Homo sapiens: one gene and its partners. The protein of the gene in region 5 purifies or fractionates together with the protein of the main gene of each other region. This does not show direct contact. Each region holds a gene or a part of one and is shown on either strand. Other genes may lie near its edges. The genes, in order: GMPS, PCK2, PPIL3, ANXA5, CCS, GSTO1 and ACSF2.

Region 1 (3,998 bases), on a different chromosome or scaffold from region 5:
AAACGTAAATGAATATGCAATAAGTCACATAAGTCTGTGTGTATATACATATATGACTTTAATTTTATAAGTGCATGTGTATACGCACACCTTTAGCTCATTTAAATAAAAAGCTATCCAATGTTTTATGTCCATTATGTCCCCCGTTAACATTGAGCAAAATGTTAACCCCTACTATATATGCAAGGGAAATAAATTAAGTTGTTATATAGAAACCCTTGACACTATATGCAATTTCTTATGTCCCATATTCTGATAATATCTGTCCTCTTGGCTCTTACTTCTTGGAATTTCTCATAAACACGGAAGCTTCATGACAAATTGTGTAAATCATCATTTCCTCCTTTATGAAGTATATTGAAGACAAAAGGGATTAAAGTCATTTCACATTTAGCAAAGCTATTTTATGGCAACATTGTTACAACACAAAATAGACATTGCAGTTTACAATTAACAATTACACAGTGATTTCATAACAATACTACTTACTCCAATTAACAAAATATTTCTTTATAAAAAATATGTTCAAAAGGAGGTTTACATTCACTTCTTCGTTTAATATCAAGGTTGTTAACAATGGTCTTAGGAGATGCAAAGACGAAAAACTACTTACCTTAAAAATCTGTATTCTTGAAGATATATACTCCACTTGAATAAGATACTGCTCAAGGTTTAGGCTTCCTGGAGAACTCAGAGGATTTTGTAGTTGTACTTAATATACTCAATAGCCAAATTTCCTAAACTTTCATAATTTTGCTAACCAAGGGCCCTTAACAAAGTTAAAAGACACCACAGGGTTCAAAAGTGAACAAATATGTTGTTTTTGTTTTAAGACGGAGTCTCATTCTTGTCACCTAGGCTGGAGTGCAGTGGCGCAATCTCTGCTCACTGCAACCTCCATCTCCCGGGTTTAAGTGATTCTCACACCTCAGCCTTCCGAGTAGCTGGGATTACAGGCGCGCGCCACCAAGCCCAGCTAATTTTTACATTTTTAGTAGAAATGGGGTTTCACCATGTTGGCCACGCTGGTCTCAAACTCCTGACCTCAAGAGATCCGCCCGCCTCGGCCTCCCAAAGTGCTGGGATTACAGGCATGCGCCACTGTGCCTGGTCACAAATATGTTAATGAGCCAATTAAGATGGTGCTGCTCAAATGATTCTAATTCAGGAAACTTAGGTTGCAGCTAGGTAATCTCTAGTTCTCTAAAGAATAATACCCAAATGACAGGATTTATGTGTTGATGCAATAATAGCTCAGTCTGTTTCATGACCTAGCTAGAGTCAGAATTGGAGCGGTGGCTATAGCACAGGGGTGGCTTTCTCCTCTCTGAAGGAAAAGTAAAGAAGTAAGAAGAAAGAGGTTGAAAGAACAGCCTACACAGTTGTTGCCCAGATCTCAAAATTAGCAACAAGTATGTCAGCTGTCCTAATTATTACCAAACAGGTCCTGGGAGTGTCTGACACACAACATAATATAGGTGCAATCAGTTCCAGAATCTGGTTCCTGGATCTGAACTAATTTAGCTATAAGACCTTCAGCAAGACCATCTCTATGGCCTGCATCTCTCTCCTATAGGTTTGACAAAGATTCACCTATGAGTTTGATGAAGACAGGCTAGGTATGGCCCTCAATAAGAATTTATTCTGACTGGGAGATTTAAAACTGTAAATGCTTGCCGGGCGTGGTGGCTCACGCCTGTAATCCCAGCACTCTGAGAGGCCGAGGCGGGCGGATCATGAGGTCGGGAGATCGAGACCATCCTGTATAACACAGTGAAACCCTGTCTCTACTAAAAAGTACAAAAAAATTAGCCGGGCGTAGTGGCGGGCGCCTGTAGTCCCAGCTACTCGGGAGACTGAGGCAGGAGAATGGCGTGAACCCACGAAGCGGAGCTTGCAGTGAGCCGAGATTGTGCCACTGCACTTGGGGACAGAGCGAGACTCTGTCTTAAAAAAAAAACAAAACAAAACTGTAAATGCTTGAGTTCTACCTCCTCCAGATTCTAATTTTATTTAATTGGACATCTGGTTATTGTATTTTTTAACTCCTCAGGTTATGTAATAATACGCATCCAGTGTTGAGGAACACTGACAAAAAGGTTAGAGTTCAGTGAGACACTGAGGCCTCTTCAGTACATAAAAATAGGGTTGGAAGTTAGCATCTTGACACTCTTTGGGGGATTCTATATCTCTTCACTTGCCATTAAGTGAAACGTTCAGAAATTTAAGAGTCAACAATGCCACCATTACTGCTGTCAAAGTCCTTCAGTGATTAAAAAGATACCAGAAAGATACCCTGATCCCTTGATCATCTGGTGGTGTTAAACTACTTCAGTAAGAACAAAAGATGTGCTTTCCAAGGGTGGAGACATCCAACTTGTATTCAGTTCCCCATTACATTCTGGATTTGGGTCAATGAAAGAAGCATCCATTGGGGTGATAGCTAAGGCGTGTCCTCGCCACATATCAATGAGATTTCTGGAGGGGAGTAGTGTGGGAAAGTGGTTATAACATTGCGCAAGCAGATGTCAGAGAATTTCTGAAAGACAGGGCTATCTCTAGAAACTCACTGTAAGTAAGGAGACAATTAACACTTTTGAAGCCCATTTATCCCTGATGGTCAATTACACACTAAGAACTTCCTTTTTTTTTTTTTTTTGAGACTGAGTCTCGCTCTTTCACCAGGCCGGAGTGCAGTGGCACTATCTCAGCTCACTGCAAGCTCCGCCTCCTGGGTTCAGGCCATTCTCCTGCCTCAGCCTCCCGAGTAGCTGGGACTACAGGCACCCGCCACCGCGCCCAGCTAATTTGTTGTATTTTTAGTAGAGATGGGGTTTCACCGTGTTAGCCAAGATGGTCTCGATCTCCTGATCTCGTGATCCACCCACCTCGGCCTCCCAAAGTGCTGGGATTACAGGCATGAGCCACCGCGCCCGGCCAAGAACTTCCTTTTAAGATTTGCCCTGAAGGGCCCTAGAGCATTTCCTCTTCCATGCAGAGAATCAGAAAGCTTGGATTCTAGCTCTAGCTCCCAACAATTAGCTGTATGTAATTGATGATGGGTGACTTCATTAGTGTCAAAGCCAAAGCATATTCTCTGTCAGCTTTTCAAAAAAACACGCAGTAAAGAGAGATTCCTACCAGGAAAACTTTGATGGGTGTTTTTCAAGTGTCATCTCACAGCAGAAGATGCCCCAAGTGGTCAAACCTTGCCAACAGCTTCAAAAAAAGGTAACTAGGATTTAACTTTACGGTGCATTTTGATGTTTCCCTTTGTGTCATATCTGATGATAAAAGAACCTTAAAAAAAAAAAAAAAAAACACTATCCAGCTTCTCCATTCTGTCTCCTGCTTTACTTTCTCTTGTTTACAAAATACAAATTTATAGCTGGATTTGATGCTGAAAATTTAATACAGTTACCTCATGTCACAGATAAAGAACAGAAATGACTTGACCAAGTTCACATTGTTGTTTAACGGCAGGAAAAGCACTAAAGATGGATAGTCCTGCCTTCCTAATTTGAATGCTCTTATTCTCTACAGGTTAGGGTCAAGTTATTCAGTAAAACAGGCTATCAGGAGGTTAAGCCCAAACAGTGAGGAAACAAATTTTATGATGCTTGTTTGACTAAATGCATGCAGTTTACCTCAAGATTAAGGGATTTAAAAAAGGTTAGAAAACAGTGTAACCCTATCTCCTGGATATATCTACAGACTTGTATTTAGGAATTATGCCAGGCTGTTATTTCTAACAGAGCTGATGATCATAGATGTGGCCTTTAAGGCAGGACTGGGTATTTGGTTCTTAAAAATGATTCTGTGCCTGCCAATCTTAGGAATAAATAATGCTTTCAATGATCTACATTCTCTGTCTACCTAAAAAGTACAAAGAAAAAGAATATATTTAATCAAAGAGAGATGTGTCCCAGGTAGATGGTAAGCAACGGGAATAAAGTCATGATATGCCCAGAATAACCAATGATGAATGTTATTAGCCA
Region 2 (3,998 bases), on a different chromosome or scaffold from region 5:
GTAAACAGACCCAGAAACTGGGATTTGCTTACGCCTATAATCCCAGCACTTTGAGAGGCCAAGGCGGGTGGATCACCAGGTGTCGGGAGTTTGGGACCAGCCTGACCAACATGGAGAAACCCCGTCTCTACTGAAAAAAAAAAAAAAAAATACAAAAATTAGCCCAGCATGGCAGCGCATGCCTGTAATCCCAGCTACTTGGGAGGGTGAGGCAGGAGAATCACTTAAACCCAAGAGGCGGAGGTTGCAGTGAGCCAAGATCGCGTCATTGCACTCCAGCCTGGGCAATAAGAGCGAAACTCTGTCTCAAAAAAAAAAAAGAAAGAAACTGGGATTTTTTTTTTTTTTTGAGATGGAGTCTCACTGTATCACCCAGGCTGGAGTGCAGTGGCATGATTTCAGCTCACAACAACCTCTGCCTCCGGGGAATTGTCTCAAGCAATTCTCCTGCCTCAGCCTCCGGAGTAGCTGGGATTACAAGCATGCGCCACCACACCCAGCTGATTTTTGTATTTTTAGTAGAGACAGGGTTTCACCATGTTGGCCAGGTTGGTCTCAAACTCCTAACCTCAAGTGATCCACCCACCTCAGCCTCCCAAAGTGCTGGGATTACAGGCATGAGCCACTGCGCCCAGCCTAGTTTGTAGTTTGTATTTTATTTTAATGTTAAATGAAGAAGCTGATATAAATAAGATCCTTTGCTTTTTTTTTTTTTCCTCACCAGTTCAGGGAGCTTTTGCCAGGGGCAGAGACCCCCAGAGGGCTGGGACCTTGGGGAACACCCCTTAGATGGGACAAAGCCTGGAGGAAGGGACTGAGATGTGATTGGGTGGGGAAACATAAGGCCAACAGAAGACCTGGAGTCAAAGTTGGACTTGAAAAAGTGGGTCTAGGGACAAGGGAAACCTGCTGGCCACCATCTTCCTGACAATCCCCTCTCCCCCAGCTGGCTGGCCCGCACAGACCCCAAGGATGTGGCACGAGTAGAGAGCAAGACGGTGATTGTAACTCCTTCTCAGCGGGACACGGTACCACTCCCGCCTGGTGGGGCCCGTGGGCAGCTGGGCAACTGGATGTCCCCAGCTGATTTCCAGCGAGCTGTGGATGAGAGGTTTCCAGGCTGCATGCAGGGTAACCAGGGCAGGGGCACAGTGGCAAGGGCACGGAAGATGTGAACAGGTTTGGAACCCTTCATCCAGGGGATGCCTTCCTCCACAGGCCGCACCATGTATGTGCTTCCATTCAGCATGGGTCCTGTGGGCTCCCCGCTGTCCCGCATCGGGGTGCAGCTCACTGACTCAGCCTATGTGGTGGCAAGCATGCGTATTATGACCCGACTGGGGACACCTGTGCTTCAGGCCCTGGGAGATGGTGACTTTGTCAAGTGTCTGCACTCCGTGGGCCAGCCCCTGACAGGACAAGGTAAGCACCTGCTCTGCCCCAAGGGGAACACAGAGGCCTTCTTGTACTCAGAGGAAATCCCAAATCCTACCTCTCCACAGACCCTAAGAACCTGTCCTCTCTGGCAACCTAATTCCCAAGATCCAGAGCAGCAGTCCCAGCAGAGGGATAAGGCTGTGTTTGCAGAGCACTTTGCACTAGGTTGAGAAAAATCCGTGTCCAAGAATAGGGGCATGGAAGCTGATGGTTATTATGAGGTGGGGGGCTTCAGCCACCTCTTGGTGCTGCTACTGCTCCCAAGTGTCTCTCCTGCCAATCCCTGATCCCTCTGGCCCCGACACCCCAGTTCCTGATGCTGCTGCCAGCAGCCCCATGACCCCATTGTCCCCAGGGGAGCCAGTGAGCCAGTGGCCGTGCAACCCAGAGAAAACCCTGATTGGCCACGTGCCCGACCAGCGGGAGATCATCTCCTTCGGCAGCGGCTATGGTGGCAACTCCCTGCTGGGCAAGAAGTGCTTTGCCCTACGCATCGCCTCTCGGCTGGCCCGGGATGAGGGCTGGCTGGCAGAGCACATGCTGGTGAGGGCCTGGTGAGAAGCAGGGCAGCTGCCGGGGACAGGGCAGGGGTGGGGCCTGGCCAGTCTGCCTCAGCCTCACCTCCCTCCTGCCAGGTGCCAGGCTGGTGGGCGGGGACTCTACTTGAAGGCCCAAAGCTTTGGCCTCAGGCTGCTGAATGTTGAGGTTTCCCCTGCCACTAACCCAGGCCTGATGGCAGGGCAATCACTTATATAGTTAATAAACATTGGTCCTCCCTATTAGACCCTAGCTGCCCTTCCCCATGCAGACCATGCCCTGACTTTTGGTGACCTCTTTCTTATTCCCTCTCTCCCCAATGCACAGATCCTGGGCATCACCAGCCCTGCAGGGAAGAAGCGCTATGTGGCAGCCGCCTTCCCTAGTGCCTGTGGCAAGACCAACCTGGCTATGATGCGGCCTGCACTGCCAGGCTGGAAAGTGGAGTGTGTGGGGGATGATATTGCTTGGATGAGGTTTGACAGTGAAGGTGAGGGACTCTCAGATCATACTCTTGGTTCTGGCTCTTGTCAGAGCCTCGGGGTCTCCTCTCTAGTGTTCACAATGACTTTGTCAGTGAGAAAGTTTCCTGAACACCCAACCCTGCTCCATTCCTCTGGCAGCCCAGCCACCCGAGAGACAGCCTTTCCTCATCAGATCTTGGGTCCATCTCAGGACAGGGGTGGGTGGAGCAGGACCTTCTTTGGTCTTACATCTCAAGTTTTCCTTGTTTGGTCCTTCCTTTCTTTCACTTCTCCTAACAGGTCGACTCCGGGCCATCAACCCTGAGAACGGCTTCTTTGGGGTTGCCCCTGGTACCTCTGCCACCACCAATCCCAACGCCATGGCTACAATCCAGAGTAACACTATTTTTACCAATGTGGCTGAGACCAGTGATGGTGGCGTGTACTGGGAGGGCATTGACCAGCCTCTTCCACCTGGTGTTACTGTGACCTCCTGGCTGGGCAAACCCTGGAAACCTGGTATGTGCGGTGGGGAAGGTGTGGCACAGCCTCCAGGCCTCAGCACCTTAATGGTGGAAAAGCTTTCTCCACAACCTCCAACCATCTTCTAGGACTGCCAGGAGGCACAGAAGTCATGAACGTTTGCAGTTTCCAGTCCCAGGCAAAATCTCAGTTCATGTCCCAACTCCACCAGTCACTGGTTTTGTGATCTGGCTAAGTTGCTCAACTTCCCTAAGCTTTAGTTTCCACATCAGTTGAATGAGGGTAGTTGTGATAGTACCTATCTCATGAGATTGTTGGAGGATTAAATAGTGCATAAAAAGGGTTTATCACACTGACAAATACACAGTAAATTCTCAATAATAAATACAGGCTGGATTTTTTTTTAATGAAAGGAAAAGGAAGGACTTTTGAACATTCTTACAGAAGGTATTGGGCTCCAAGCACTATCCATAAAGTTTGGCCCATTAGGAAAAGAGGAAAGCTGCCTCCTCTGCTCCAACTCTCCTCCTGCCACTTGGCTCCCACTGTCCCCTGTATAATAACCACTGTCTAAAGGTCAGTATTGTTACCGTCACCCTTCCCCTGTCCCTCCAAAGCATTCACCCCAATCCTTCCTACAAACAAAATCAGGTCAGTGCTTGAGTCTTTCCCAGAAGCTAGTTTCTGAATCCTGTCATTACCCTGGGCGCCTGGGAGTCCCACCTCTCCCTCAGCCCTGCACTCTGGACCTTCAGTATTCTTTCCATGGCCTTCTGCAGTCAGGCAGTCCAGACACCAAGAGGCAGGGGCAAAGAAGAGCATGGGAGGGGAGGCTGGCCTTGTAGTCACTGAAGCCTATATTCAGGTTTGCCAGGCTGGCCTAGCAGTCACCCTCCTTGCTTCATCTAATCACCCTTTATTTTTACTAACACCATCATTAAGCCCCCCTCAGCCTTCCCACCCAACTGAGAAATCCAAGAAACTTTCATCTTTCCCCACAGGCTAGTTCCCCAACCCTTTCATCATCTCCAGATTTGGGGGCATAACTAGGGCATCTTGTCCCCAGCTTCAATTCCC
Region 3 (3,998 bases), on a different chromosome or scaffold from region 5:
TGATAAAAAATTCAAAGTTAAAATAATTCTTTCCATCAAAATATTTACTTCCAAATTTTTGTCATGGATACTACTTAACCCTAACATTTATATTCTGGAGTTTTTTCTCTACTGTTGGGATCAATTTTGAGAAAAAAGTACAACTTAACCTCTAAGAGCTGCTTTGTGGATGGGTCATCTCTGAAGCAGTATTTCTGTCTGTTTTTATTCAGATTATCATCTTGAATATCCACACAGGGAAATAAACAATGCATAAAGTCACCTAAATAAATTTCATTTGTTCTCACATTTTCTCTCCTTTTTAGTCTGTGACACTGCATACAGATGTAGGTGATATTAAAATTGAAGTCTTCTGTGAGAGGACACCCAAAACATGTGAGGTAAGTACTATTATTTACATATTCAACATCAGTTAATACAACAAGATAAGCACTTTGGAATTGAATAATCTAACCTAAATAACAACAACAAAACTTTCTGTAAAACCATTGTTAGGGAAAACTAGCCATCCTAACTTCTGGCCTGATTTCCACTTATTTGTCCAATGTCAAAGGTGGATCAAAGAGAACGTAGATAATTTTTCGGTAACGATAGAGTAGCCAGTATCTTTTTCTTTTGAACTAATTTTCTTCAGGAAACGTAATCATTAGGACATTATATTACTTTTTTCTTTCTTTTTTTTTATTTATTTATTATTATTTTTTTTTGAGATGGAGTCTCGCTGTGTCCCCCAGGCTGGAGTACAATGGCGCGATCTCGGCTCACTGCAACCTCCGCCTCCTGGGTTCAAGCAAGTCTTCTGCCTCAGCCTCCCGAGTAAGTGGGATTACAGGCGTGCGCCACCATGCCTGGCTAATTTTTGTATTTTTAGTAGAGACAGGGTTTCACCATGTTGGTCAGGCTGGTCTCAAACTTCTAACCTCAGGTGATCCATGCACCTCAGCCTCCCAAAGTGCTGGGATTACAAGCATGAGCCACTGCACCTGGCCTTTTTTTTTTTTTTTTTTTTCTCAAGACGGAGTCTTGCTCTGTCACCCAGGCTGGAGTGCAGTGGCATGATCTTGGCTCACTGCAACCTTCGCCTCTGGGGTTCAAACGATTCTCCTGCCTCAGCCTCCCAAGTACCTGGGATTACAGGCACCCACCACCATGCCCAGCTAATTTTTATATTTTTTTAGTAGAGACGGGGTTTCACCATGTTGACCAGGCTGGTCTCAAACTTCTGACCTCAGGTAACCCGCCTGCCTCAGCCTCCCAAAGTGTTGGGATTATAGGCATGAGCCTCCATGCCCGGCAGGATATTATATTAAAGAATTGTTGTATACTTTTTTTTTTTTTGAGACAGGGTCTTGCTCTGTCGCTCAGACTGGAGTGCAGTGGTGCAATCACGGCTCATTGCAGCCTCAACCTCCTGGGCTCAAGCAATCCTCCCACCTTGGCCTCCCAAGTAGATAGGACTACAGGCGTGTGCCACCATGCCAGGCTAATTTTTTTTAAATTTTTATGGAGACGAGATCTCACTATGTTGCCCAACTTGGTCTCGAACTCCTGGTCTCCAGCCATCGTCCCATCTCAGCTTCCTGAAGTATTGGAATTATAGGCGTGAGCCACCATGCCTGGCCTGTTCTATACATTATTTCGCCTGTTTATTTTTATTTATTTATTTATTTATTTTGAGACAGAGTTTTGCTCTTGTTGCCCAGGCTGGAGTGCAGTGGCCCAATCTTGGGTCACTGCAACCTCCGCCACCCAGGTCCAAGGGATTCTCCTGCCTCAGCCTCCCAAGTAGCTGGGACTATAGGCGCCAGCCACCATGCCCAGCTAATTTTGTATTTTTAGTAGAGATGGGGTTTCACCATGTTGATCAGGCTGGTCTCAAACTCCTGACCTCAGGTGATCCACCCGTCTTGGCTGCCCAAAGTGCTGCCCAAAGCCACTGCACCCGGCCTGTGTCACCTGTTTAAATGACAAGGATGGAAGGAAGAAGAGTCACCTGTATATATTCATTTATTCAGCAATTATTTATGGCTGGGCATGGTGGCTCACATCTATAATTCCAGCACTTTGGGAGGCTAAGGTGAGCTCAGAAGTTCTAGGCTTACCTAGGCAATATAGTGAGACCCCCATCTCTACAAAACAATACAAAAATTAGCCAGATGTTGTGGTGTGACCCTGTTGTCCCAGCTACAAGGGAGGCCAAGGTGGGAGAATTGCTTGAGCCTAGGAGGTCAAGACTGTAGTGAGCTCTGATCACACTGCTGCACTCCAGCCTAGGTGACAGAGCAAGACCCTGTCTCAAAACGAAACAAGAAACCCATTATTCGTGAAAGGCTATCTTGCCCCAGAGTCTGGAGATACAGTGATGAGCAACAGACATTCCTTACCCTCATGGAGCCAATATTTTAGTTGTAAAAATAAGCAGGGCAGGAAAATTAAGTAATTATATTTTTAAGAAATTATTTTCATTTATTTATTTTTTTTTTAAAGATAGAGATGAGGTCTTACTATGTTGCCCAGGCTGGTCTTGAACTCCTGGACTCAAGTGATCTTCCTGCCTCCCAAAGTGCTGAGATTACAGGTGTGAGCTGCTGTGCCTGGCCTAAAATTAAGTAATTCTAAAAGATGATAATGCCTTGAAAAAAATTAAGTGTTGAGATAGAGAATAATGGGAAAGGAAGAAGGTGAGGGCAGGTGTAGCCAATAAACTAATACTTAAATTAAATGCAAAGGTATGAGGGCATCTCCATGGAAAGAGGTATAGAAAGAATATTCCAGGTATTCAGATTCAGAAAAGGTTGTGAAATAAAATTTTAAAAAATTCCAAGACCAGGCACGGTGGCTCACACCTGTAATTCCAGCACTTCGGGTGGCTGAGGCAGGAGAATCATTTGAGCTCAGGAGTTCAAGACCAGCCTGGGCAACATAGGGAGACACTGTCTCTACAAAAAAAAAAAAAAAAAAAAAAGAACATTCCAGATATAGAAATCTCAGGTACAGAGTACCCCAGGTAAGAAAAGCTGCCCCTTTTGGATTAATTGTCAGAATGCTGATGGAGTTTAGGTAGTAAGCAACAAGAAAGCAGTTCTTAGTATATGTGATGAGGAGATGAGCCAGGTACTGCAGGGCTTGTTAGGCCCTGCTGAAGATTTTCTTTTTGTTTTTGGTTGTTTTTTTTTTTTTTTGAGACGGAGTCTCTGTCGCCCGGGCTGGAGTGCAGTGGTGCGATCTCGGCTCACTGCAACCTCCGCCTCCCAAGTTCACGCCATTCTCCTCCCTCAGCCTCCAGAGTAGTTGGAGGCGCCTGCCACCACACCCAGCTAATTTTTTGTATTTTTAGTAGAGATGGGGTTTCACCATAGCCAGGATGGTCTCGATCTTCTGACCTCGTGATCCACCCACCTCGGCCTCCCAAAGTGCTGGGATTACCGGCGTTAGCCACCATGCCCGGCGAAAGATTTTGTATTTTATTTCAAGAGGAGAAGGAAGCTATTGAAGTGTTGTAGGCAGGGAAATGACATCCAAAGTAATGACAACAGTCATAGTTTAAATATGCTGCTATCACGTTTTCAGTAAATATGATTGGTTTTTTGTCTTAACTGGGTTTCTGCTGCATCATTTCTCAATCATTTTTACTCCCTTCAGAATTTCTTGGCTCTTTGTGCCAGTAATTACTACAATGGCTGTATATTTCATAGGAATATCAAGGGTTTCATGGTTCAAACAGGAGATCCAACAGGTAAGTTATTCCATTAACCAAGATCTAAGGAACTGAATGTATAGTATGAAGAAGTGGGTAAAAGAAGAGGAATTAAATACGTGGAGTTTTTGTTTTGTTTTGTTTTGTTTAATAAGTTCTGTTCTACAAGTACAGAACATGCAGGTTTGTTACATAGGTATATGTGTGCCATGGTGGTTTGCTGCACCTATCAGCCTGTCCTCTAGGTTTTAAGCCCAGCATGCATTAGCTATTCGTCCTAATGCTCTCCCTCCCCTTGCCC
Region 4 (3,998 bases), on a different chromosome or scaffold from region 5:
GGCTCACTGCAAGCTCCGCCTCCCAGGTTCACACCATTCTCCTGCCTCAGCCTCCCAAGCAGCTGGGACTACAGGCGCCTGCCACCACACCCGGTTAATTTTTTTAGTAGAGATGGGGTTTCAACGTGTTAGCCAGGATGGTCTCGGATCTCCTGACCTTGTGATCCGCCTGCCTCAGCCTCCCAAAGTGTTGGGATTACAGGCGTGAGCCACTGCGCCCAGCCGATATCACTAATTTTTTTTGAAATACGAAGATATTTTGGTTATTAAAAGCAGTGTATATATATGATAAAGTAATGTGTAACAGGAAGCTTTATGAAGAATGTCTTCCAATACACCTTTATAAAGTTCTAAATTCAAAGATTTGTATTCCTCTGGCACGTGAACGATCATTTCAGGCTTTGCTGGGTTATCGTAAAGTCCCTAAGTATGTATACAGAAACAGGACTTAGATCAAAAGGCACGTAACAAGAGCACTGCTTAAAATTGAGTACTCAGGATAGGGTATTAAGATTTAGTGCGGGCTCAGTATGCTTGTAGATCAAAATGGTGTGAGACTTAATGGGAAGGGAACCTGCAAAGATGTGCCCTCTGTGAACCAGGAGGTGTTGGTGGGGTTTCGTCACAGAGAAGAGGGAGCCAGCCTTCCCACTGATGGTATTACAGGTGATCAGGATAGCTTCTGTGCTGAATCGGCCATGCCAATTCCCATTGTAAATGGTTCCCTTCCCAGTTCAAAAGGGGTCACAAATCTTATCAAATGGTAAATTTATTTAATGACTGAATATGATATATAGCAAGCGGCTTCCTGTTTGTGTTATTTACTTTGTCATATTAGTCATGATATGAATAATACCACTGTGTTTCGTGAATTAGGTTCTCAGAGGCACTGTGACTGACTTCCCTGGATTTGATGAGCGGGCTGATGCAGAAACTCTTCGGAAGGCTATGAAAGGCTTGGGTAAATTTAGCTTCCTCTTTCTAAAGCAAATGTGATATTTGTTTTTCCAAACAAGTCATTAATTACAGTAAGAATAATTTTAGAATATTTTGATCTGAAATCTGTAGGAGAAGAGATATGTTAAGATAACAAAATAATACTATAAACCAGAGTGTCCAGTCTTTTGGCTTCTCTGGGCCACATTGGAAGAATTATCTTGGGCCACACATAAAATACACTAACAATAATGATAGCTGATGAGCTAAAAAAAAAAAAAAAGCAAAAAAATTTCATAATGTTTTCAGAAAGTTTATGAGTTTGTGTTAGGCTGCATTCAGAGCTGTCCTGGGCCACATGTGGCTTGCAGGCCATGGGTTGGACAAGCTTGCTATAAACCATCCCTAATATTCAGTCTCTAGAACTGAACAGGCAGTTAAATTCAGCCTCTGTGCTTTTGAGCTTGTCACCCTCACCTGTGTGGTAGAGGCCCGAGTCGATAAGGCAGCCATCCCTGCAGGTGGGCAGCTGTGCAGCTCTGTTCCCAATCAGATATCCCATTCTCATTCTGCTAGACTCTTCTCTTTCCCCAGCCTCTTTTCTAGTCATTTAAAAACCTCTCATCTCAAGGATTTCCATGTGTCACTGATCTCCTGTGCTCAGGCTCCTTTTGTACTACTGTTCATGTGCTTTCTGGCCCTGTAAGTCCTTCCATTGTATCCAGCCCACCTTTTCAGACTCATCTCCCATTACTGTTTAATGTGTTCTCAGACCCAACCATCCTGGCTTATCTGCTGTTTATGAAAGCCCTGTATTTCCCCACTGCTGAGCTTTTCTCTCATTCTAAACGCTGTCCTTCCTTTCGTCACTGCCTTTCACAATCCTTCCATCCTTCAATACTTGTGGGTGTCACCTTCTCCATGAATCATTCTCCAAGATTCCCTTCCACCTCCTATCAGCTAGGAGACCCTTCTTTGAGCCCCATTTAACACCTAGATCTCTCCTGAGGCACTTGTCACATTTTGCCTTAGCTCATACTTATTTGTGTGTTTTTAAAAAACTAGGTGCCCTAAGTTTTTTAAAAGGCAGAAGTATTTTTCCATCTACTTCACAATAGGTTGGGAATGGGGGGTAGAATATATTGGAAACGTAACATTTTATATATTGTAAATTTTTAATAAACTGTTTAATAAAACATTTATATATATGTGTGTATTTGCGTCTGTGTGTGTGTGTGTGTATATATATATGTGTGTGTGTATATATATATATATATACATATTTTTTTTTTTTCTAAGAGATGGGGGTCTCACTATGTTGACCAGGCAGGTCTTGAACTCCTGGCCTCAAGCAATCCTCCCATCTTGGCCTCCCAAAGAGCTAGGATTACAGATGTGAGCCACTGCGCCGGCCATAAAATATATTTTATATTCGCATAGGGAGAGGCAAGGAAATAAGGTGACTGGGAAGCGAGTTGCCAAGATCGTTGGGAGAGTATGCATGTAGGAGCCAAAATGTAATTGTTAACCATAAATTGCAGGCACAGATGAGGAGAGCATCCTGACTCTGTTGACATCCCGAAGTAATGCTCAGCGCCAGGAAATCTCTGCAGCTTTTAAGACTCTGTTTGGCAGGGTAAGACCACACTTCATCCCAAGAGAGAATGGGAGAACAGCTATCAGTTATAAGACTAGTTTGGAATATACTGATATTCTTTTGTAAGCATCATTTATTTTGTGATTCCGACTTCCCTACTTCTGTTTCTTTTCCACTCTCCTCTAAATTATCAGCTCTTAGGATACAGTGCTCACCCAGCTTATCCTCACATAATTGTTTTTCCTTGCCTAATGCTGTAGAGGTGCCAAAAGATCCTGTAGTGAGAACTGTCTCTCTTCTTTTCCTCTGTGTTTCCCACTCAGCATTCACATGGATGTCTTACTATCCATTTTCTAGGTGTAAGCCTGTATTAAAATATGTTTTGTTTTAACACAGTCACAGTCTTGGTTCCTTTTGTCATGATTTTAACTAATGGGTTTTTAATTAGTTGATTTAAATGCTTTTATTTGATTAATAATTCAAAAAAATTTATTTGAATTATTTAAATGAATTATTTGAATTATTTAAATTTAAATGAATTAGTGCATGCATGGAAAACTTAAATGTAGTCTTGTTATTCTGAAAACGTATGTCACTTAACTAAGGAAACAAGTGCAAAGCAAAAAAGAAAGTATTCTAAACACCATTTTTAGTTGTGTGGTATGCTGAAACTTATAGGTAGGAAATACTGTGTTTTTTTTTTCACAATTACATAATTTTTTCATAATTACATACACAATTTCCCCATAGGAACAGATATCTCCCAGTGGTCAGGAGTCATAACAATGACTATAATCTATTATGTGTTTGAATGTTATTACATATTGAGAGAAAAGAAAAAATTATTACGTTTGGGTATGAGAGACTAAATGTTGTCCTTTGTAAATTTCATTATATGATTATTTTTTGAAATTACAAAGAAGATATGTTTCTCAGAATAGTATTTTTATAAAATAGTTTTAGACTACTTTTAAAGGTATTCTTTTTTTTCAAGTTAAGAAAAACATCTTTTAGAAACAAATATCTTGACGTATAAGTGGGTTTGCTTTAGTTTAAGATTTTGGTCACAGGTTAAAAGTATGTTATTCAAGGTTATAGGGTTTTGTTTAGCTCATGGGCCTTCTACTTGGAGACAGCAACATAAAGAATTCATTAGAGCAAAGGACTGTCATTCATATTTAAGAAGAATCTTATTACAATTTCTGCTGGTTAACAAATTTGTATTTTCTGTGGGTTAGGATCTTCTGGATGACCTGAAATCAGAACTAACTGGAAAATTTGAAAAATTAATTGTGGCTCTGATGAAACCCTCTCGGCTTTATGATGCTTATGAACTGAAACATGCCTTGAAGGTAAAAAGGATGAGTGAAAGGAACATTCTTGCATAGATAGTATTATTTTGTTTTGGTAATTACTTCCTCTTATTTGTTATATTTAAAAAATTTTATCTGATTATTTCAGTGAG
Region 5 (3,998 bases):
CCTTGGCCCCTCTCGGAGGGAGGTGGCTCAGAGCTGGTACAAATCTAATCATAGGATTCTCAGGCTCTGGGTTGGAGTGGCTTTGAGGAAGGTGTGAAAATTATGTGAGACTCCCTGCCCTTCCCGAGCTGCTGAAGAGGTGTGCTGGGTGAGGTGGCAAGCCAGCCCAAGTGTCTAATACCTTGCAGAGAATCTGGGGGCAGCAGTGGCCATCCTGGGGGGGCCTGGCACCGTGCAGGGGGTGGTGCGCTTCCTACAGCTGACCCCTGAGCGCTGCCTCATCGAGGGAACTATTGACGGCCTGGAGCCTGGGCTGCATGGACTCCACGTCCATCAGTACGGGGACCTTACAAACAACTGCAACAGGTGAGTTGTCTGAAGTCTCCCCAGTAGCATTCTCAGCTACACATTTTCACACTGGGCCCTCACCAATACTCTGTGAGGCACATACACACAGGCACAACCTCCAGATGAGGAAACTGAGGCTCACAGAGGTTAAATGACTTGCCAAAGGTCCACAGCAGGTAAAAGGTAGAGTTGGGGTTTGAGTCAAGATCTGACCTTGGCTGGGCACAGTAGCTCACACCTGTAATCTAGCACTTTGGGAGGCTGAGGTGGGCGGATCACCTGAGGTCAGGAGTTCAAGACCAGCCTGGCCAACATGGTGAAACCCCATCTCTACTAACAATACAAAAAAAAATTAGCCAGGTGCAGTGGCATGTGCCCATAATCCCAGCTACTAGGGAGGCCCGTAATCTCCTGAGGCAGGAGAATCACTTGAACTCAGGAGGTGGAGGTTGTGGTGAGCTGAGATTGCACCACGGCACTCCAGCTCAGGGGTGACAGGGCAAAACTCTGTCTCAAGAAAAAAAATAAAATCTGATCTTGAAGGTCCTGCTTATAACCACCTTACTGCCTCTGAGATGGAAGGGGACTTCTGGACACAGCAAAGGAAGGGTCCCCATGCCATGGTGTTTGTCATGCTGTGATATAACTAGTTGTTTACTCATCTGTGAGTCCCCTGAGCCAGAAGCTTATTCAGGACAGGACCCATGTCTGATTCTTCTCGGTGCCCTCTACCCAAAGCCCAGCACAGAGTAGGCCTGTTTGTTGAATGAATGAATGAATGAATGAATGAAGCAAATATAAATAGATGAGAGGGTAGAGCACCTGGCCTGTGAGCTGCTTTCCTGCCCACCTGTTTCCTTTCTTTCTTAGCTGTGGGAATCACTTTAACCCTGATGGAGCATCTCATGGGGGCCCCCAGGACTCTGACCGGGTAAGTGTCTGTCTGGGTTTGGGCTTGGGCTGAGAGAGGACCCAAAGTCTCAGAGGCAGGGCAGGCAGCTCTTGGGATCATAACAGTGTGATTCCTTTTTGGTGGAGTCTTTTCCTCTCATTTTATTTTGCTGAGTTTGGAAACATTTGTTGACACTTTCTGTGATCAAGGCCCAGGGGATACAATAGATTACAGCCCCAGTGCCTGACCCAAGGAGCACACAGTCTCTGGGGGAGATTACTGAATTCCATGGTTTCCAGGCAGTGAGATCATCCTTGCAGGAGCCTGCAAGAGGTCCTGGAGCCCACAGTGAATAGTTCATCTGCCTGAGGGGCAGGGGCAGTGGGAGGAAGTGAAATATGGAAGTTGAGGGTTTTACCTAAACTGAAAAGGCTGTCCCTGGTGTTCCCTAACACCCCGGTCCTGGAGTTTCATTTTTCAGCAGAGAATCATTTCCCAATCTTCAGGGAATTGTGTGTTGCCTTAATGATTTTTGCCTTATCTGAGTACTAGTTGTATTTTTAGTTACTCAATCATTTGGTTTTTTTATTTTATTTTCTGAGATGGAGTTTTGTTCTTATTGCCCAGGCTAGAGTGCAATGGCGCAGTCCCAGCTCATTGCAACCTCCGCCTCCCAAGTTCAAACGATTCTCCTGCCTCAGCCTCCCTAATAGCTGGGACTACAGGTGCACACCACCACACCCGGGTAATTTTTGTATTTTTAGTAGAGATGGGGTTTCACCAGGTTGGCCAGGCAGTCTTGAACTCCTGACCTCAAGTGATCCACCCACCTCAGCCTCCCAAAGTGCTGGGATTACAGGCGTGAGCCACTGTGCCCGGCTCTGACTGGGCTATTTTCTATCTTGATGGGTTTGCAACCTTGTGCCACAAAACAATTGAAACCATGGTATGTGTTGCTTAATGCATGTTACTGATTTTTTGGACTTTTCACAGCTCTGTTACCTATCATGCTTTTCTTTTCTTCTGTTTCTTTTCCTTTTCCTTTCTCCCCTCCCCTCCCCTCCCCTCTCCTTTCCGAGATAGGATCTCACTCTGTTGCCCATGCTGGAGTGCAGTGCTGTGATCATGGCTCACTACAGCCTTGAACTCATGGGCTCAAGCAATCCTCCCACCTCACCTGATAGCTGGGACCACAAGCATGTACCATTATGCCCAGCTAATTTTTTTTTTTTGTTTTTTTGGTGGTAGAAATAGGGTGTCACTATGTTCCTCAGGCTGGTCTCAAACTGCTGGGCTTGAGCAGACCTCCCTCCTCGGCCTCCCAGTGTTAGGATTATGAGCATGAGCCAGCATGCCTGGCCTCTGCCACATTTTTTTTTTTTCTTTTTCTTTTTTTTATTTTTAGTAGAAACGAGGTTTTGCCATGTTGGCCAGGCTGGTCTTGAAGTCCCAACCTCAAGTGATCCGCCTGCCTTGGCCTCCCAAAGTGCTGGGATTACAGGCATGAGCCACTGTGCCCAACCACCCTGTCACATTTCTAATGATCAAAAGTTTTTACTCCCTGTTCTGGGAAATTGGAGAGGCATTTCTTATAGAGTCCATTGCACAGTGCCATGCTTATGCTCAGTGATTAGTAATCTGCTGCTGCAAATCAAATGACTCCAAAGTTAGGAGTTTAAAACAACAAACATATACTGTCTCTGGGGCAGGAATTTGTGTGTGACTTAGCTGGGTGCCTGCAGCTCAGGGTCTCTCTCGGGGCTGCAGTCATCTCAGGGCCCCACGTGGGGAGAATCTGCTTCCAGGTTTGCTCATGTTGCTGTTGGCAGGCCCCAGGTCCTCCTTGGCTGTTGGCCAGAGACATCAGTTCTTTGCCACATGGGTCTCTCCCTAGGGCAGCTAACAACACGGCAGTTGGCTTCTCTCAGAGTGAATGAGCGAGAGAGAGAGAGATTGAGATTGAGAGAGGGCGTCCAAGACTCAAGCCACATTCTTTTTGTAACCTAATCTTAGAAGTGACACTAGGTCCAGCCCACACTCAAGGGAGGCACATCATAGAGGCCATTCGCCTCATGCAGCCTTGAAAGATGATGGGCAGGAAGTAGGCATTGAAGAGGGTAAGAGTGGGATTGGCAAGCCCAGCAAAAGAAACTGCCCGGGCAAAGCCCTCAAGGCATGGAATGGCAGGGAGTGTTTCTGAAGGGCAGGAGCCTGTCTTGTGACCTGTGTTTTCTTCCTGGGCCCCAGGTGGGGCAGGGAATCAGAAGGGGCTGGCATCAGCAGCTGTACCTCACCCAATCCCTTAACTTAGACAAGGAAGAACTGAGCAGGAGCTGACCAGCCAAGGCCACGGTGACTGGCAAGTTGCTGTTGGGTTTTAGCATCTGCTTTTCCCAGGTGGAAAAGAATTCCATGTGGGAATTTGCATTCAAGCCTGGTTGTCCCTTGCACATCTCCTAACTGATCTCTAAGCTCCCTTCTGTTCTCTCCTCACCCTGCTCCAGTCTTTACTTTTCATAGACTGCACTAGAAGGATTGTTCTGAAGCCTGGAGTAACCAGGCCATGCCCCTGCCTGAAACTTGTCTTGGCTCCCAGTGCCTGAGAGTACAAGCTGGGCCTAGCTTCTTGATGTGGACATTCAATACCCCACTCCCCCTGCCTATTGCCCCTGCCTGTGTGCTGAGGAAACAGCCTGGAAAGGCTGCCTTTCCCTGAACTCCTGCTGGGTCATGCCTCCAGCCACACTGTCCAGGCTGC
Region 6 (3,998 bases), on a different chromosome or scaffold from region 5:
TGGACACAATTCAATTAGTTGCCTCATATGATTTATAACTAAGATACCTCTTAGCCATAAATGGAGTATCTTATTGACAATTTTGAAGCATTTCCACAGATTTATTCATTCATTTATATGAAATATTTCAAAACAAAAATATTTACTGAGTCCTTATTTGAAACTTTTTATTTTCTTCAGAGCATTTATATCTATATAGCATTTTGCTCATTTACATGTTTGTTTATTACTATGAACAGATACACAAGATCCCACCTTTCGTGAAGCTTACATTCTAGGAAGATAACAAACTTGTAAATAAGTGAGCAAAGTAATTTCAGATACATATTATCAGTTCAATGAAGAAAGTAAAACATGATAATCATGTAATAGAAGCTGCTCAGCAACTTCAGAGCTATGGTCAGGGAGGGCCTGGGGATGTGTGTTTGACCTGGGAAGACCTGGGAAAAGGCAGGCAGAGGAGGCAGAGGACCATCAAGTGCAAAGACTCTAAGGTGGAAACACATTTGGCAAATTCAAGGAATATAAAAACCGCCAACGTGTAAAAGAAAACATAGGGGAAAAGCTTCATGACACTGGCCTTGGCAATGATTTCCTGGACATGACACCAAAGACCAGGCAACAAGACCAAAAATAAACACATGAGACTACAGCAAACAAGCTTCCACACAGCAAAGGAAACGATTAACAGAGCAAAAAGGCAACCTATGGAATAGGAGAAAGTACTTGCAAACCACATACCTGGTAAGGGGTTAATCTCCAAAATACATAAGGAATCTCTACAACTCAACAACAAAAAAACCTGATTTTAACATGGGCTAAGATCTTACATAGACACTTCTCAGGCTGGGCATGGTAGCTCACGCCTATAACCCCGAGGCAGACAGTTCACTTGAGCCCAGGAGTTCAAGACCAGCCTTGGCAACATGGCAGAATCCTGTCTCTACAAAGAAATTAGCTGGGTGTGATGGTGCACGCCTGTGGTCCCAACTACTCGGGAGGTAGGAGGATCGCTTTAGCCCAGGAGGTCGAGGCTGCAGTGAGCTGCGATCAAGCCACTGTACTCCAGTCTGGGAGACAGAGTGTCAAAAAAAATTAAAAATTAAAAAAATAGACATTTCTTCAAAGAGGATATAAAAATGGGCAACACATATATGAAAAAGTTCTTATCACTAATCATCAGGAAAATGCAAATCAAAATCACATAATAACCTCACACTTGTCAAGATGACTATAATGAAAAAAGACAAGTGTTAGCAAGGATGTGTAGAAATCAGAACCTTTGCACACTGTTGGCGGGAATGTAAAATGGTACAGCTGCTATGGAAAACAGTATAGATGTTCTTCAAAAAATTAAAACTAGAACTACCATGTGATTCAGCAATCTCACTACTGGGTATATATCCAAATTAAATGAAATCAAGTTCTCAAAGAGATATTAGCACTCTCACGTAGACTGCAGCACTGTTCACAACAGCATAATGTCAATGTCCATCAGCAGATGAATGGATAAAGAAAATGTGTTAATGCTATTCCACCTAAAAAGGAAGGAAATTCTGCAATATGTGACAACATGGATGGACATTGCGGACATTATGCTAAGTAAAATAAGCCAGACACAGAAAGACAAATACTGCATGATTGTTCTTAAAAGGTGTATCAAAAGTAGTCAGATTCATAAAATCAAAAACTAGAATGGAAGGAATCTAGGCAGACTCCTAAATTTGGGGTCTGATCAGCTAAGTGGATGGCAAAGCCAGTGAGAATTTATCCAAAAGCACAAAAGTTGTTTCCTTCTCTTCATAGTCTCCTATGTGTCTTTCAGGCATGAAGTCATCAATATCAACCTGAAAAATAAGCCTGAGTGGTTCTTTAAGAAAAATCCCTTTGGTCTGGTGCCAGTTCTGGAAAACAGTCAGGGTCAGCTGATCTACGAGTCTGCCATCACCTGTGAGTACCTGGATGAAGCATACCCAGGGAAGAAGCTGTTGCCGGATGACCCCTATGAGAAAGCTTGCCAGAAGATGATCTTAGAGTTGTTTTCTAAGGTTTGTGCATAAGAAATTTCAGCTCCTATTTGAAAAACCTGTTTTTTAAAGCGAAATCAGTGCTGCCATTTATGGTTCAGTGATTTGGGAGAGAAAAACAAAACAGGAATATGCTTGTCAGCTCTGAGTGTCCTGCAAGTCCTTTCACGATCCAGTTCCTGTTTACCTCCAAAATTATCCCTTTTCACTCGTCTCCTGACACTTTATATATGCCAGCCATACTAAACTTTTCTCAGAATTCCCAAATTCGCCCCTTTCTCTTTCAATTCTTGCTGTCAGATTCTTCCCACTTCTCACTGTGCCTGGTTATCTCCACGTCATTTTTCACATGTCTGCTCCGACACTGCTGCCTTTTCAGGAGCTTGGCAGGCTGGTTAGTGCTCTAGCTTCTGAGTTCCCATCCGTGTGAACTTTTGCCTGCCTTCTTGCCTGTGTACTGCACTGGGGCTGTGAGCTCCTTGAGGGTGAGGGCTGTGTTTTGATCACTGTTAGTTCACTGCCTAGTTTTATGACTGGCTCTGCTACTTTCTTGTGACTCTGAGCAAGTTACTTATTACTTTGCCTCTCCGTTCATCATTGGTAAAATGGATATAGTAATTGTTCCCACCTCATAAGATAAAAATCAGTTAATATAAAACACCCAGAACAGAGTCTGACACATGGGAACTACTTAATTCTTGTCCTTATAGCCATAGCATCAAGCAGTGAGCATCTACTTTGTGTTGGCAATAACTCAGATGACTGAATAAATAGCAATCCTGTAGAAGAACTGTTTGTACCTTACTTAGCATCAACACTGTGGATTAGTTCAAACAATTAGTATTAACAAAGAAATGACTAAAAGATGTGTGTTTAGACACCAAGAATAGCATGTCTGGTTATATGCCTATAACATTGTCACCTTGGTAGTACGGTCAGTATATAAAGGATTATCTTTAGAGAAAAAGATGGTTAAAGAAATGCCCTAAGAGAGAGTTATAGGGAAAACATTCTGTTTTAGGAGACATTATAAAGGGAAGCCAATGGGACAGGAAGAGTGAGTCATCTGCTTAGTAAGATGAGGGTGAAAGAATAGTAGAGGCGGCTGCTGTGAAAGATAATGTAAAGGGAACATGACATTTTCAAGAACGATGTGGGAGAGTTTTACAAAGTAGTAACAAGTTAAAGGCATGCAGCTTCAAGACACGAAGTCATCAATACCAACCAAAAAAAATAAGCCTAAGTGGTTCTTAAAGAAAAATCTCTTTGGTCTGGTGCCAGTTCTGGAAAACTTTTTTTAGTATGGCTGGAATATAAAGTGTCAGGAGAAGAGATAAAAGGGGTAACTTTGGAGAGGTAAACAGGAACTGGATCGTGAAAGGACTTGTAGGACACGTCAGAGAAAATGAGCTTTAAAAGTAAAGCTTTTAGACATGAAGCTTTACTTTCATGCATAAAGCTACTACTTTAAAAAGTAGTCACAAGAGATTCATTGTACTATCTAGAAAGAAAATGAGATTTAAAAGTAATGCTGAAGATGCCCACCTTTACTTCCCTGCTTGGGTTTTAAAGGAGAGGTGGCTTTATGTACATATGACCCTGCTCTCCTGGCCACAGCCCATCAGAACAGAAATGTACCCCACCCCACACACCTGGGCCAGTTATCTTCTCTCCTGGGAACTTGGAAATGAGACACAGAACTAAGACAGTAAAGGTTAGGACAGTAAAGACAACTAAGCGTTGGGGCTCAAATAATGTTAATTAGAGGCTAGAAAAACCAAAGCCACTTAAGAAATAAATTTTTAGAGGAGCAAGAATTAAAAACATTGCAAAGGGACTGAAGTATGCAAAGTAATATGGAGCAGAAATGTGAGGAAAAACAGACGAAAGACCAGGCAGACCCAGGTGGAAATGTGGATGAAAGGGCTGCCTGAAAGCCTTCAGTCCCAGTGAAGGCAGGCTGAACTGATG
Region 7 (4,618 bases), on a different chromosome or scaffold from region 5:
ACTGTGGAGCAGAAGGCAGAAAGCGTGGGCAGAATTATGCCTCACACGGAGGTGAGCCCCTGACCAAGACTCCAAAGTCCCACCTCCCGTCACCCAGCTGGGGTGCACCCAGCTGGGACATCGGTTGCTTTCAGTGAGAGAGTCAAATGGCTCACTCAGGATGCCTAGAGCCCCCCAGCAGCAGGGGTGTGCTAGGCCTGGCCCGGAGTGTTCTCTGTGGGCTAAGCATGAAAGGGGAAGAGCTGGAACAGTGGCTGTGAGCGGCTGCCAGCTGAACTTCTCCGCGGCCTCCCTTCCTGTCTGAGGTGTGTTTTTGCCAAGCCCACTGTCTGTTTCAGGGCAGCCAGGGTAGCCTCAAAGAGGAGCCAGAGCACAGAGAGTTTTCCTACACAGCTTCTTTTCCTCCAGTGGTGCTCGCCTCTCGCTTTAGCAGAGTTCTTCTTCTTGCTTGGCGTAAACACTTCATTTCCCAAGCAGCCTATCCCTTTGGGGCGGTCCCTTTGCCCCTCAAAGGTTGCCCCAGAGTGCACCTGAATCTCAAATGCCCAGCCATGCCTCCTTTCCTGCTCCAACACTGGGGCTGTGCCAGCTGGCTCCTGATTTCCCCTGCACCCTTCTGCTCCCGCCCCTGGGGGATCGCTGCCCCCGTGCACAAGCAGCTGCTTCCCCTGGGGCTGACCGCTGTCCTGGCGTGAATCTGCCCTGCCCTCCCGCCAGAGCAACCATGTACCCAGGGATTGAGTAGGGATGTGAGCCTCCTCCCGTGTGTGCTACAGCTGCACTGCCACTGTCACTAAGATGCCCACCTGGAAGGGAAACAGGGGCAGGCATCACTCACCCCATTTCACGGACACAGACACTGAGGCACACAGAGGCTCAGCTTTCCTTGGCACGGTGGCCGTGGCTCTTTTCTCTACCAGGCTTTCAGACTCTGTCTCTCCTGTTCACATGGTGTTGCCATGCCACCCTGTTTGGCTTATTTGCTGCTTAATGGGAAGTAAGAGGAGACTCCCTTCTCCTCTGCACGGTTTATAATTCTTCAGCTGGCTCTGCAGTCCACAAACCTCTTTCTTTGCAGCAGCTGCCTGCCCACTCTGTTTCCTCAGCCCTCCCAGCCTGGGACTCAGCTCTTCTTTCATGCCCAGCTCAGGTCTCTCACTGGCTTTGGGTCGACTCTAGCCTTTGTCTCCCTTCTCTGGATGGGGATAAGCAGAGCCAGGGGGCCTCATTCCAGGCAGTTGGGTTGGGGGGTTGGGGGCAGGCAAAGCTCTCTCCATTTCCAAGGACCACCTATCCTGAAGCAAGAGGATAGGAAGCCCCAACCTGAGGCCATCCTGTCCCAGGCCCGGATCATGAACATGGAGGCAGGGACGCTGGCAAAGCTGAACACGCCCGGGGAGCTGTGCATCCGAGGGTACTGCGTCATGCTGGGCTACTGGGGTGAGCCTCAGAAGACAGAGGAAGCAGTGGATCAGGACAAGTGGTATTGGACAGGGTGAGAAGGCAGGGCGGGGTGGAGGCTCTGGCCGCTGAGGGGAGGCTGGAGGTCTTGAGGCTGAGCCGGGAACATTAACCTGGCACCGTGAGGATGTGGGTATCAAGATGACCCCTCACATGCTGGAGTCTTAATTTCCAAAATGTATACGGTGGGGATGATCATACATAGCACAGAAGAAAGCAACTGGGTCATCACCCTACACCAGCAGCTGCAAAATCTGAGTCCAGATTCAGTCACTCATTTGTTAGCTCAGCAAATTCTTACTAGAATTCCTTATGTGCTAGCACCGTTCTCGCCGCTAGAGGTCCAGAGGAAAGTAAGATGAGAAGGATCCTGCTTTTTGGAGGAAGACAGATGATGCCCAACATCGATAAATAACACCAAGAAAATAGGCCAGGCGCGGTGACTCACACCTGTAATCTCAGCAGTTTGGGAGGCCGAGGCGGGTGGATCACCTGAAGTCAGAAGTTTGAGACCAGCCTGGCCAACACAGTGAAACCCCACCTCTACTAAAAATACAAAAATTAGCCGGACGTGGTGGCGGCACGTGCCTGTAGTCCCAGCTACTCGGAGGCTGAGGCAGGAGAATCGCTGTAACCCAGGAGATGGAGGTTGCAGTGAACCGAGATCGCGCCACTGCACTCAAGACTGGGCGACAGAGCAGGACTCCATCTCAAAAACAAACAAGCAAATGAACAAACAAAAAACACTAAGAAAATGAAATAGGGTTATAGGAGAGAAAGTGGCTGTGGTGGGGAGGGGAGCTTCCCTTAGATTGAGTGGACAGAGAAGATGTCTGGAGACATTTGAGCTGAGACCTGGAAAGAAGCCAGTCGTGAAAAGCTATGTATAGATGTGTTGAGAGAGACAGAATATGTTATAGGTATTGTTTTGTTTTTGTCTACCTCCCCTCCCCTTACTGGACTATTAATTCCAGAGACTGTGTCTTGTTCCTGCTATGTCTCCCAGAGTCTAGAGCAGTGGAAGACACATAGTAGCTGGTCAATAAATGTTTCACGACTGAGCAAGCAAGTGAGTGAACAAGGCAGAGATGACAGGTTGCCCCTGGGCTTTCCTTACAGAGATGTCGCCACAATGAATGAGCAGGGCTTCTGCAAGATCGTGGGCCGCTCTAAGGATATGATCATCCGGGGTGGTGAGAACATCTACCCCGCAGAGCTCGAGGACTTCTTTCACACACACCCGAAGGTGCAGGAAGTGCAGGTGAGGCACTTGGCTCAGGTGAGCCCCCAGAAACAAGAAACACACATGAACACGGTGATGTCTGATATTTTTCTTTGGCCCTGGAAGGTGGTGGGAGTGAAGGACGATCGGATGGGGGAAGAGATTTGTGCCTGCATTCGGCTGAAGGACGGGGAGGAGACCACGGTGGAGGAGATAAAAGCTTTCTGCAAAGGGAAGGTGGGAGCCTCCGCTCAACCTAGCTGATGCTGCTCTGTTCTTTGCTCACCCACTCCTCTGCCAACCAGCCCAGGGTGGGGATTGCTCTGCCCTTGACGAAGCTGACTCCTGGCCAGGCCAGCCCCTGGTCCCCTACCCATACCCCTGTGAGCTTGCGCAGCCTCACGCCTTACCTCCCTCCCTCTGGTCTGCAGATCTCTCACTTCAAGATTCCGAAGTACATCGTGTTTGTCACAAACTACCCCCTCACCATTTCAGGAAAGGTGTGTAAGGTGGAGGAGGCTGGGGAGGGCAGCCTGGGCTCTGGGGCCCCATAGGGCCCCACCTCTGTTTCCTTCAGCAATGGGTGTGGAGAGACTGGCAGTAGGGTGACCGGGTCACCTAATCCTGGTTTGCCTGGGGACTTTCCCTGTTTTGGCACTAAGAGCCTGAGAAACCCCTTATTCTTGGGTGAACCAAGACAGCTGGTAACCCTAACTCCATTTTCTTTCCTCTAGATCCAGAAATTCAAACTTCGAGAGCAGATGGAACGACATCTAAATCTGTGAATAAAGCAGCAGGCCTGTCCTGGCCGGTTGGCTTGACTCTCTCCTGTCAGAATGCAACCTGGCTTTATGCACCTAGATGTCCCCAGCACCCAGTTCTGAGCCAGGCACATCAAATGTCAAGGAATTGACTGAACGAACTAAGAGCTCCTGGATGGGTCCGGGAACTCGCCTGGGCACAAGGTGCCAAAAGGCAGGCAGCCTGCCCAGGCCCTCCCTCCTGTCCATCCCCCACATTCCCCTGTCTGTCCTTGTGATTTGGCATAAAGAGCTTCTGTTTTCTTTGGCTTCTTGCTGGTGGGCTCTCTTGGCAGCTACTACAGGATGGAGAAGGGAAGACACTGAGGGGAACTAGCACTTTCAGACGTCCTATTCCTTGTCATTGAGAGTGCAGAGCACCTTGATGTGGATTATCTACTTAATTTAACCCTCACCCTTGGTATCCCTTTGAGATACCAACCCATTTTTGTTGTTGTTCTTGTTTTTTGAGACAGAGTCTTGCCCTGTCACCCAGGCTGGAGTGTAGTCATGCGATCTCAGCTCACTGCAACCTCTGCCTCCCTAATTCAAGTGATTCTCCTTCCTCACCCTCCCAAGTAACTGGGATTGCAGATACCCACCACCACACCCAACTAACTTTTGTATTTTTAGTAGAGGCGAGGTTTTACCATGTTGGCCAGGCTGGTCCTCAAACTCCTGACCTCAAGCAATCCGCCTGCCTCAGCCTACCAAAGTGCTGGGATTACAGGCATGAACCACTGCGCCTGGCCCCAATTTTTTATTTTTAAGCTACTCTAATTTAATTCTTTTTCACATTGTTGCCAGATTAGTCTAGCAAGAAGTATTCTTTTTATATATGTATAACAGCTTGATTGAGATGTAATTCACATACTCTCCAGTTCACTCCCACCTCCCCCATTTTCTAGAGACAGGATCTCATTCCGTCACCCGTGCTGGAGTGCAGTGACTCACTGTAGCGACATGATCATAGCTCACTGCAGCCTCGAACTCCTGGGCTCAAGCAGTCCTCCCACCTCAGCCTCCTGAGTAGCTGGGACTGTAGGAATGTGCCACCATGTCTTAACTAATTTTTAAACATAGACACAGGATCTTGCTATGTTGCCTAGGCTGGTCTAGAACTCATGGGCTCAAG

Evidence for each region.
Region 1: the proteins of CCS (region 5) and GMPS fractionate together in Homo sapiens (co-fractionation; one large-scale study listed by BioGRID). This does not show direct contact.
Region 2: the proteins of CCS (region 5) and PCK2 fractionate together in Homo sapiens (co-fractionation; one large-scale study listed by BioGRID). This does not show direct contact.
Region 3: the proteins of CCS (region 5) and PPIL3 fractionate together in Homo sapiens (co-fractionation; one large-scale study listed by BioGRID). This does not show direct contact.
Region 4: the proteins of CCS (region 5) and ANXA5 fractionate together in Homo sapiens (co-fractionation; one large-scale study listed by BioGRID). This does not show direct contact.
Region 6: the proteins of CCS (region 5) and GSTO1 fractionate together in Homo sapiens (co-fractionation; one large-scale study listed by BioGRID). This does not show direct contact.
Region 7: the proteins of CCS (region 5) and ACSF2 fractionate together in Homo sapiens (co-fractionation; one large-scale study listed by BioGRID). This does not show direct contact.

What each region holds. Positions count from the first base shown.
Region 1 is NC_000003.12:155,940,064-155,944,061, reverse strand, and holds the end of GMPS (GMP synthase [glutamine-hydrolyzing]), read right to left. Parts: 3' UTR 42-3,998; downstream 1-41. UniProt on the Homo sapiens protein: Catalyzes the conversion of xanthine monophosphate (XMP) to GMP in the presence of glutamine and ATP through an adenyl-XMP intermediate.
Region 2 is NC_000014.9:24,097,257-24,101,254, forward strand, and holds part of PCK2 (phosphoenolpyruvate carboxykinase [GTP], mitochondrial isoform 1 precursor), read left to right. Parts: intron 1-946; coding exon 947-1,131; intron 1,132-1,218; coding exon 1,219-1,422; intron 1,423-1,792; coding exon 1,793-1,980; intron 1,981-2,301; coding exon 2,302-2,464; intron 2,465-2,738; coding exon 2,739-2,957; coding exon of another isoform or gene 2,958-3,049; exon of another isoform or gene 3,050-3,497; intron 3,498-3,998. UniProt on the Homo sapiens protein: Mitochondrial phosphoenolpyruvate carboxykinase that catalyzes the conversion of oxaloacetate (OAA) to phosphoenolpyruvate (PEP), the rate-limiting step in the metabolic pathway that produces glucose from lactate and other precursors derived from the citric acid cycle.
Region 3 is NC_000002.12:200,882,080-200,886,077, reverse strand, and holds part of PPIL3 (peptidyl-prolyl cis-trans isomerase-like 3), read left to right. Parts: intron 1-305; coding exon 306-380; intron 381-710; coding exon of another isoform or gene 711-816; intron 817-3,642; coding exon 3,643-3,736; intron 3,737-3,998. UniProt on the Homo sapiens protein: PPIases accelerate the folding of proteins. It catalyzes the cis-trans isomerization of proline imidic peptide bonds in oligopeptides. May be involved in pre-mRNA splicing.
Region 4 is NC_000004.12:121,683,251-121,687,248, reverse strand, and holds part of ANXA5 (annexin A5), read left to right. Parts: intron 1-876; coding exon 877-961; intron 962-2,477; coding exon 2,478-2,572; intron 2,573-3,771; coding exon 3,772-3,885; intron 3,886-3,998. UniProt on the Homo sapiens protein: This protein is an anticoagulant protein that acts as an indirect inhibitor of the thromboplastin-specific complex, which is involved in the blood coagulation cascade.
Region 5 is NC_000011.10:66,599,271-66,603,268, forward strand, and holds part of CCS (copper chaperone for superoxide dismutase), read left to right. Parts: intron 1-188; coding exon 189-366; intron 367-1,218; coding exon 1,219-1,279; intron 1,280-3,998. UniProt on the Homo sapiens protein: Delivers copper to copper zinc superoxide dismutase (SOD1).
Region 6 is NC_000010.11:104,257,751-104,261,748, forward strand, and holds part of GSTO1 (glutathione S-transferase omega-1), read left to right. Parts: intron 1-1,825; coding exon 1,826-2,048; intron 2,049-3,998. UniProt on the Homo sapiens protein: Exhibits glutathione-dependent thiol transferase and dehydroascorbate reductase activities. Has S-(phenacyl)glutathione reductase activity. Also has glutathione S-transferase activity.
Region 7 is NC_000017.11:50,471,085-50,475,702, forward strand, and holds the end of ACSF2 (medium-chain acyl-CoA ligase ACSF2, mitochondrial isoform 2 precursor), read left to right. Parts: coding exon 1-51; intron 52-1,284; coding exon of another isoform or gene 1,285-1,299; exon of another isoform or gene 1,300-1,314; intron 1,315-1,343; coding exon 1,344-1,495; intron 1,496-2,580; coding exon 2,581-2,722; intron 2,723-2,809; coding exon 2,810-2,920; intron 2,921-3,114; coding exon 3,115-3,183; intron 3,184-3,417; coding exon 3,418-3,468; 3' UTR 3,469-3,753; downstream 3,754-4,618. UniProt on the Homo sapiens protein: Acyl-CoA synthases catalyze the initial reaction in fatty acid metabolism, by forming a thioester with CoA. Has some preference toward medium-chain substrates. Plays a role in adipocyte differentiation.